Linked DNA regions of Homo sapiens: region 1 is linked to region 2. The links come from fine-mapping of genetic effects on gene expression. A gene starts in region 2. The other region holds a variant in brackets. All regions are shown on one strand. Distances are between the middles of the regions.

The links. PIP is the estimated chance that this variant, and not a neighbour inherited with it, causes the effect.
Region 1: its variant is fine-mapped to the expression of PRADX in whole blood (INTERVAL, PIP 0.98).

What each region holds. Positions count from the first base shown.
Region 1 is chr11:1,726,103-1,730,486 of GRCh38, reverse strand. No RefSeq gene overlaps it. Among named protein-coding and RNA genes, the nearest start is that of IFITM10, 22 kb to the left of the region's middle. The variant T/C (reference allele first, on the strand shown) is at 1,753.
Region 2 is chr11:1,758,490-1,762,873 of GRCh38, reverse strand. It overlaps PRADX (PRC2 and DDX5 associated lncRNA), which reads right to left and starts at 2,526. Exons shown (of 2, transcript NR_182291.1): 1 at 1,680-2,526; 2 at 388-1,555. CTSD (cathepsin D) reads left to right here. Exons shown (of 9, transcript NM_001909.5): 2 at 1,406-1,565; 3 at 3,235-3,358; 4 at 3,787-3,905.

The DNA of each region.
Region 1 (4,384 bases), 32 kb after region 2:
CCCCACCCCGACTTCACATCCACCTGCTGAGCTGGAGGCTTTGCAGGGGTGGTCGGGGCCGCTCGCAGCCAGGACGGGAGATGTGCTCTTGGGAGACTGGCCAGAGAGGCTGTGATGGTGGAAGAAGCAGAAGTAGTCACTGGAAACAGCATCTGAAAATGGCCCACAGCTGATAAGCTCCATCAACCCACCAATTTGAGACCAGTGAAGCCCACACGATAGAACAGTAAATCCCCGGCTGAGTACATCACAGTGGAACTGCACAGCACCAGAGACACAGAGGAAAATGCCTTAAAAGCAGCCAGAGAAAACCGATTATTTTCAAAGCAGCAACGATGACTTTTAGCCAAAATTAATGGGCTGTTCATGACCTATGGGAAAGAAAGGATTTCTTTAAACAAAAACTTCTTAAATGTGAAATATAACGCACAGAATAGTGCCCAAAGTCAATTAAAAGTAAAATTTTTGAAAATGTACAGCTTGATGAATCTTCACAAAGCAATCACCCATCAATTTAACCATACAATATCAAGAAAGAGCACTTTGTCCAGACCCCTGGAAGCCCCCGGGGGCTCCTTCTGACCACCCCTTCGTTCCCAGCTGGGACCCACCACCCTGACTGATCAACACCCAGCAATCAATTCCAAGTCCTTGTGTACATTTTTACGACCTAAGAGTGCATCCCTCAGCGCCGTCATCTGTTAAACAGGCTCCTGACTTTTGGAACTTTTTATGAATGGAACCGGGCCATGCACTCTTTTGTGCTTGGTGTTTTGCGCTGAGTCACCCCCGGCGATTCACTGGGGTGCCTATGAATTTTCATTGCAGACTGACATCCATTGCATCATGTACCACAGCGTACATATCCATTTTACCACCGACAAACGCTTGGGCGGTTTCCGTCTTGGCATTTAGGGGTACCACTGCTGCAAGCATCCTTGTGTGTGCTGCTCGGGGCCCCCAGAACCCATGTCTCTCGGGCAGATCCTTAGTAGTGGGATTGCCGAATTATGAAGTCTGCTGATCCTCCACCTCAGCAGGCGACGCCCGCCCTCCAAGATGGCTGCGCCTCCCCCAGCAGTGTGTGTTCCCACCGTTTCATTTCCTCCCCAGTGCACCTGCTGTCAGTCTTTTTTTTTTTTTTTTTTTTTTAATTTTTGCCACTCAGGGGAACATGTGGTAGTATCTCGTGGTGGGTTTGGTTTGTGTTTCCCAGATGGGTGAGGAAGTCGAGCGTCTTTTCTGCGCACAGACTGGCCATTTGGTTTTCCTGTTTGTGAAATGACTATTTCAGTGTCTTGACCATTTCTTTCCTACCAGGCTGTCAGTTTCTCCGTGATTCTAGGGGTTCTCTCAGGACAGCGTGTCCACGTCCTCTGATGGTTCTACGCAGTGCAGATAATTTCTTCCGCTCGGAGGCTTTCCTCTTCGCTCTCCTAGTGGCATCTTTTTATAGACAGAAGTTTCCAATTTTAATATAGTCACAATTACCAACATCTTCCATTTGGTTACTGCTTTTCTCGGCAAGACACAAATAGAGTGATCATAATGAAAAACGTTGATGCATTTGACAAATCTGAGCACAGGTGGGGCAACTTCTGGGTTGCTGGGAAGGTTCCGTTTTCTGATGCTGGTGGTGGTTGCATGACTATTTGCTTTATAAAAGTCATTAAGTTGTACATTTATGCTTGATGTAGTTTTCTGTATAATATTTATGTCTTTTATATATTGCAGTGTTATGTATAAATGCCA[T/C]CAATGGGAAATAACTCAAATGTCTACTGACATATTTTCATATGCATATGAAAATAAAATAAATAACTATGAACATCTTTGGGTTCAAGTAATATCTCTGAGAGAAATTAGCCTTATATTTATTCATAAGTAATTCCAATGCATAGAAAGAATATCTCCAGAAGAAAAGTGGCTCTGGGAATGGAAAGTGAGCAGTGGTGATTAGTAATTTTTATTGTGAACTAAGCTGCACAGAGAGGAGAATGTGGGGGCATCCCTGTGGGGAAGGCACTCGAGGAGGGGGGCAGGAGGCTGGGCACGGAGAGGAGGGGCTGCAAGGAGGGGGCCAGAGCCATGCCTGATGAGAAGGGCATCTGCGGGGAGATGGGCAGTGGCAATGGGAGGGAGGTGATTACACCCAGGGGGTCGGTAGAAGAAGTAAAGATATTGAAGTAAATGGGAGTCTGCTTTCTCACTGTGGGCAAAGAGAGTGACAAATATTGAAAGGGATGAAACTAGAACGCAGCCTGTGGTGTTGGATTGGAGTTGGAGGAATCCATTTATTCTCCAGCTCCTTCCTCTAAGAGGCTCTGAAAGCAGCAACCCCCCAGTGGCAGACCCTGGCCCCTAAATACCACTCACCACCGACAGGACCCGGGGCTCCCTGGGGAAGCAGCTGATTCCAGGCTGAGACAGGTCAGGGGCAGGATGAGCCAGGGCGAGGACATGCAGAAAACACGCAGGAGTCGCTTCCCACCGGCCACGCCAGAGACAACTTGAGCATCAAAGCCAATAATGTTAGTCAAGATTACAGTTTATTGCATAAAATAGGAACCCGAGTTTAATACACTGATGTTAATACATCAATAAACTGGTAGTTGAACAACCACAGTGATCTTTAGTTCCAAAGAAATTTCCTAAAGAGTCATCGCAATCACAAAGAAACTTTATGACTTTATGCCTTCAGAGGTAACTTTACAGGTGGGGAAGCCCAGCAGGCATCACCTTGATCAAATGATCAAAGTGAATGTCATCAACAACCAGATAAATTGAAACTGTTCACCACCTGATGGGATGCACTGATAAGAACGGAGTCGTTTCTGTGATATTTCTGCCGGTTAAGGACTGAATGTTTGTGTCACCTCCACTGTGATGGTATTGACGGCAGGGCCTCTGGGAGCTGATCAGGGTTAGATGAGGTCGTGAGGATGGGACCCCCATGATGAGGTTAGTGTCCTTATGAGAAAAGACACCAGAGGGCTTGTTCTCTCTCTCCCACAGCCTGTGAAGACACAGTGACAAGGCGGCCGTTTGCAAGCCAGGAAGAGAGCCCTCACTAGGACCCAAATCTGCCAGCACCTTGATCTTGGTCTTGTACTTCCAGCCTCCAGAAATGAGAAAGAATAATTTTTTTTGTTTCAGCCACCCAGTCATATTAGCTGTGGCAGCCTGAGGTGACTAATATCCTGCCAAAAACGCACAGCCAAACACCAGGCAGACCCAAACTGAGGGATCGTGAGAATAGATCTGGCCTATAATCAGAAGTGTCGAGGTCATGAACGTCAAGGAAAGATTGAGGAACCATTCCAGACAAATGTAATTAGGCACACTCTCACTCTGCAGTTTGTCTTTTCACTGTCTTAATGTTATATTCTGATAACTAAGTTATTTTTTATTAAATTCCATTTATAATTTTTATCTTGTATGACTGATGTTTTTCATGTCCTGTTAATTTTTAATTTCTTTTTTCTTTATTTTTTTTTTACTCACTTCAGGGTCATGAAGCTTTTCTCTTAATAGCTTTATTGTTCTGCCTTTTGGATCTAGGTCTGTGCTCCACCTTGGATGAATTTTTGTGTATGATGTGAGGTGGGAGGTCGGGGGAGCTGAGGACACTGTAGGTCCTCCACCCAGGTCTGCTTGGGTCATACCACTGTTCCTCTGTGCCCCACCCCCAGCCTCAGTGTGCATCTGTCTCCAAGAGTCCACGACTGAGATGGTACTTGGGAAGACCCTGTATCTGGACTTCATATCCCTTTCACAGTCTTTAGTCACTGCTGTTTCCGGCTGGAGCCCCAAAGCCAAGCTCCCCTGTCTGCATCAAGATAAACTTATGATCTATGATCAAGAGTTGCCATTGATTAGGCAGAAGCTGGGCCTGCACAGAAACCCCCACTCTCCTGAAATCTTACTTCCCTTCCCCCATTTTCCTAGGAGCATGTCCCCAGTAAATTACAGACATGGAGATCTTCTCACTTCTGGTTCTGCTGCCGGAGAACCTGAACCAACTCCGGGGCAATGTTAGTATTTTTATTCTTCCCATAGAGACGTCCCAGTGCTGCCATGTCCCTCATGGAGAAGACCATCTTTCCCCCACTAAGTTGCAGGGGCCCTCAGTGGTTTGTTGGGTGGCCGTAGAGACGTGGTGCATGTGTTTCTGGACTTCAGTCTGTCCCACTGGTCTATTTATCTGACTTTACAGCAGCATCAGACTGTCTCCATTCCTGTGGGAATACTATCTGTATTAAGTCTTCATAACTGGTAATGTTTTTCAAGGAATTTTTCCATTTCATTGAAGCTGCCAGATGTATTGACATAAAGTTGTTCATAGTATATTTTTATTCCATTTTGGATGTCTGTACCCACATTTTCA
Region 2 (4,384 bases):
TAGGACTGAGCCTCACCAAAGGCTGTGGGGAATGGCCCGGGGGCGGGTAGCCCCAATTAAAGTCGTTGTGGGGGAGTAGCCACAAGCCTGAGCCTGCCTTGACCTTGCCAGCCTATCCACAGGCCTCCCCTCTCCAAGGAGGACAGACACAGCAGAGGGGAAACGATCCTGGGGCTTCTTGGAGGGAAGGGTAGCTGAATCCAAGCCCTCACCCGATTCCAGCTCTTGTGCGACTGATACTATTACACCTGCTTCCTGGTCCCTGGAGGGCGTGTCCCTCCCCCAGGACAAAACCTGGAGCTCTTCCAGCCCACCAGCTCTTAGGCAATAATCTCATCTTCCGGGATCACGCCCCTGACAAGCCAGGAAAAGCCAGCTATGACCTTGTACTCTCAAGTCCCTGGGGCAGGGAAGAGGTTTTATTTAAGTGATTAAAAGCCCAGGGGAGCTTCCTTGGAACAAGGAGTGGGTTCACACCAAGGGGAAGGCCAGTGGCCCTGGGGGAGGAGCAGGGACCCCTCTCTCTCTTACTCGCTTCCTGGGTTTAGAACTCAGGACCCCGATCTCAGTCTGGAGCTCCCTCCTGCACCCTGGCTGGCGGTGTGCTGGGTGACAGGACTCTGGAGGGGTACCCTGAGTGCAGCTGTCGGAGGAGGCAGGGCGGTGGGGGGGGCAGCACAGAAGCCTCTAAGGCCCCAGGTGCAGTCCTGGACCTCGTGGAGCCGCATGGAGTGAGGAGAGGTGCGGATGCCCAGAAACAGATGTGGGATGAGGGCACTGGGCAGCCACAGGGTCCATGTGGAGGAGGACAGGTAGTCAAGGAGGGCTTCTGGAGGTGGTGTGGAGGGCCCATCTGATGGCCAGAGGAGGCCAGGCAGAGCTGCCAGTGCCAGCCTGGAGGTGGGGCCACCTTCGTGCAGGTGTCTGGGGGTGGAGAGCAGGTGTGATGGGGGCTGGGTACAGTGGGCTGCCTCAGAGCACTTTGGGCAGGAGTGACAGGTACCCGCCAGCACCCTGAGCAGCCATGCTGGCCACCATCCTGGAAGAGACCAGCGCAGGTGCAGAGGGAGGACGGGAGACCCTTGGGGGCTTTGGAGCCTCCAGAATGGCTGAGGAGAGGAGGGTTGGGCACACTGGCCCCCAGGTTGGGTGTGTGGGGCTGAGGTGGGTGGCGGGTGACCACTTCTTAGGACTGTGGCCTGTGCAACCTGGCGGGGGGCAATGGGTTGCCATTCACTGACTTGGGGGAGCTGGGCCAGCAGTTTCCAGGTGACAGGCAGGAGTTTGGTTTTGGCTGTGGCGACTCTGAGATTCCCCAGGGGCCTCCAGGTGGATGTGCAGCATTGGCAGCGTCGGCCGGCAGGCGGGAGGGCCTCCCTGATATGCCCCGACCCGTGGTTGACAGGATCCCGCTGCACAAGTTCACGTCCATCCGCCGGACCATGTCGGAGGTTGGGGGCTCTGTGGAGGACCTGATTGCCAAAGGCCCCGTCTCAAAGTACTCCCAGGCGGTGCCAGCCGTGACCGAGGGGCCCATTCCCGAGGTGCTCAAGAACTACATGGACGTGAGTATGAGGTCTTAGCCCTGCTGCAAGCGGAGCCACTGTCAGGAGAGCTCCGTGGCAGTATGGGGAACATTCCCACCTCCTGTTCTCAGCAGCGCAGTTTGAGTGGCTCACCTGGCCACGGTGGCGTCCCGGCTCAGCCACACTCCTTTCTTCCCCATTCTGGAACCTCCTGCCACTGGCCCCTGTCATTGCAGGGTCTTGGTCCTGCTAGGGCCTGGGAGGGTGATTGGGAGTGGCCTCGGGCCTTGGTGCCAGCTCGCCTGAGGGGGCGGTCCTTGGGCCTGCCTGAGTGTGGCCGGCTGACCTGGAGCCTTTCACTGCTGTCCTGCTGGGAGGCCTGTGGTGACTCGTGGCCTCCCCAGCCCCTCCCCATCTTCTTCCTCTCGCAACAGCCCCTCCTGTGCCCACTACTCCTTCAGGGGGAAGCAGGATCCAAGGTGGAGCACTCTGGAAGCCACCTAGCAAGCTGGGGCTTGGTCAGCCTGGTCCCAGCTCTATGGGGTCAGTTCGAGGCCAGGGCCTACTGTCCAGCCTCGGGGCTCTGGCCCACTGTGGGGGAGCCTTGCCCTCTGTCCTGCTTGGCCCGAGTCCTGGCTGTGACAGGAAGCCCAAGACTCACAGGCATGTGACTGGGCCAGGGGGGCCCTGGGGGGAACCAGGCGCCGTGTGCCTGGTCCCGACTGGCCAGTTCCTGATTGTCCTAGCGCGCGAGCAAGCAGATGCACGCATGCGCACACATGCACACACACACATGGAAATTTGCTGAGTGTCCCCCTGCCAGTGGTCACTTCTGTGGGGCCATGAGTCAGCAGCTGCTGCTGCTCCGTGAAGCCAGGCGGTTGGAGAAACATTGGGCTGGGCTGGTGCCAGGAATCTGGTGGCTGACGGTGGCCCAGGCTCCAATCCTGGGGGAAGCGGGCGCCCAGGCGACCCCAAACTCCAGGACCCTCTTACTCTCTGCCTCCTGAGAGGCTCGGCGGCATGGGACCCCTTGTACTTGCCTGATCCCTGAGTCAGCACCCCCACCTGCGCCTGCTATCCCTGTGTACACACGGGGAAACTGAGGCCCTGGGCCATTAAGGCAGGGTTGCTGGGCAGGCAGTGATTGTAAGGCTTACCTTCTCCCCTTGACCAGCTGAACCCCTCTGCCTGGAAGCCCTCCAAGCCTGGGGTTCACCCTGGAGGGCAGGGCAGGCACTGAGACACCCAGAATCAGACCTTGACATGGCCCCAACCTGGGGAGGAAGTCACTTCCTTTCTCAGACCTTGGACTGCGGGCCACCAGGGGAGTCTTCCAGGCCGGGCTTTCCTGCACCCGGGGCTCAGGCTGAGGGCCACGTCTGTCCCCACCCTGGCTTGACCTCTGGCCTTGTCTTTTCCGTGGGGAAGTCCTCAGCCTCACCATGTATTGAGCAGGGGTAGGTGACAGAAGCCAGGGGTCTAGAGACCCCAAGTACCCGTGGGCATTAGGACCGAGGGCTGGGGACCTGGCCCATCTTCCCTGCAGGCTGAGCAGGTGGGAGTGGGTGGCTGTTGGCAGCTGTGGGCCCCGTGATGCCCCTCCCTCCAGTATGGGCCTTGGCTCTGGGGACAGCCGGGCCTTCTGAGGCCCAGTGGGGAGATGGGGCCCCCTCTCCCATCCCTGACGGACCCTGTCCCCTGCCAGGCCCAGTACTACGGGGAGATTGGCATCGGGACGCCCCCCCAGTGCTTCACAGTCGTCTTCGACACGGGCTCCTCCAACCTGTGGGTCCCCTCCATCCACTGCAAACTGCTGGACATCGCTTGCTGTGAGTCACGAACCCTGGCCCCGTCGCCCAGGTCCTGCCCTTCCGGGATGTCGCTGCAGGGCTGCCTCAGGAATCACTTGGGCAACGCAATTCTCCTGCCTCTTGGCCCCGTGAGCCAGGCCAGCCCTCCACCCTGCTCCAGCCACTGACTTTCTGGGTGAACCACCAGCTGTGGTCTTGCTCTCAGCAGGGCTGGGGCTGGGGTGGCCACAGAGGGAGCCGGCTGTGGCTGGGAGGGAGGCCCGGGGTCACAGCCCACAGTCCCGGGGCTCTGGCATGATGGTGGGCCTCAGATCCCCTCCAAATCCCACCCTGGGGAGGCAGCTTGGGGGGTGCGGGCTCCATGGTAGATTGTAGGGGGATGGGAGGGCTAAGGCCGTGGCGTGGGCTGCGGGATGACCGGCGGGCCCCCTTGTCGCCCGGGGCAGGGATCCACCACAAGTACAACAGCGACAAGTCCAGCACCTACGTGAAGAATGGTACCTCGTTTGACATCCACTATGGCTCGGGCAGCCTCTCCGGGTACCTGAGCCAGGACACTGTGTCGGTGAGTCCCTCTGGGGCCTTTCCCAGGACTCGAGGGTGCCAGGGTGTGGGGTTCACCCACCGTGGGTATGTGGTTGAAAGGGAGGGCTCGGTGATCCCAGCCCAACCCCAGCCCTCAGGTGGCCGGGGCAGTCAGCAGGGTGAGGAGGGGTCTGGGAATGGGCCTGGTTGTGTGCAGGCTGGAGGGACAGCCTCAAACCCAGGGGGTACAGGGGCAGGGGTCCCCGGAGTCAGGCCACAATGAGTGGGAGGGAGGACAGGGCAGATCGATCGGGCTCTTTTTGGCACATTGGGTTTGAGGTGCCAGCAGGTGTTGAGGGCTGGACCTGGGGCTGCACAGGGTCCCTGCAGCAGGCCGAGGGCTTGGGGAGGCTTGGGGTTGGGAGGATGTACCAGGAACCCGCTGTGGGGGCTGCTGGCGGAGAGTCACCGGCAGGAGCCTGGGAGGGCAAGGGAGGGGGAGCAGCAGTGGCTGTTGGG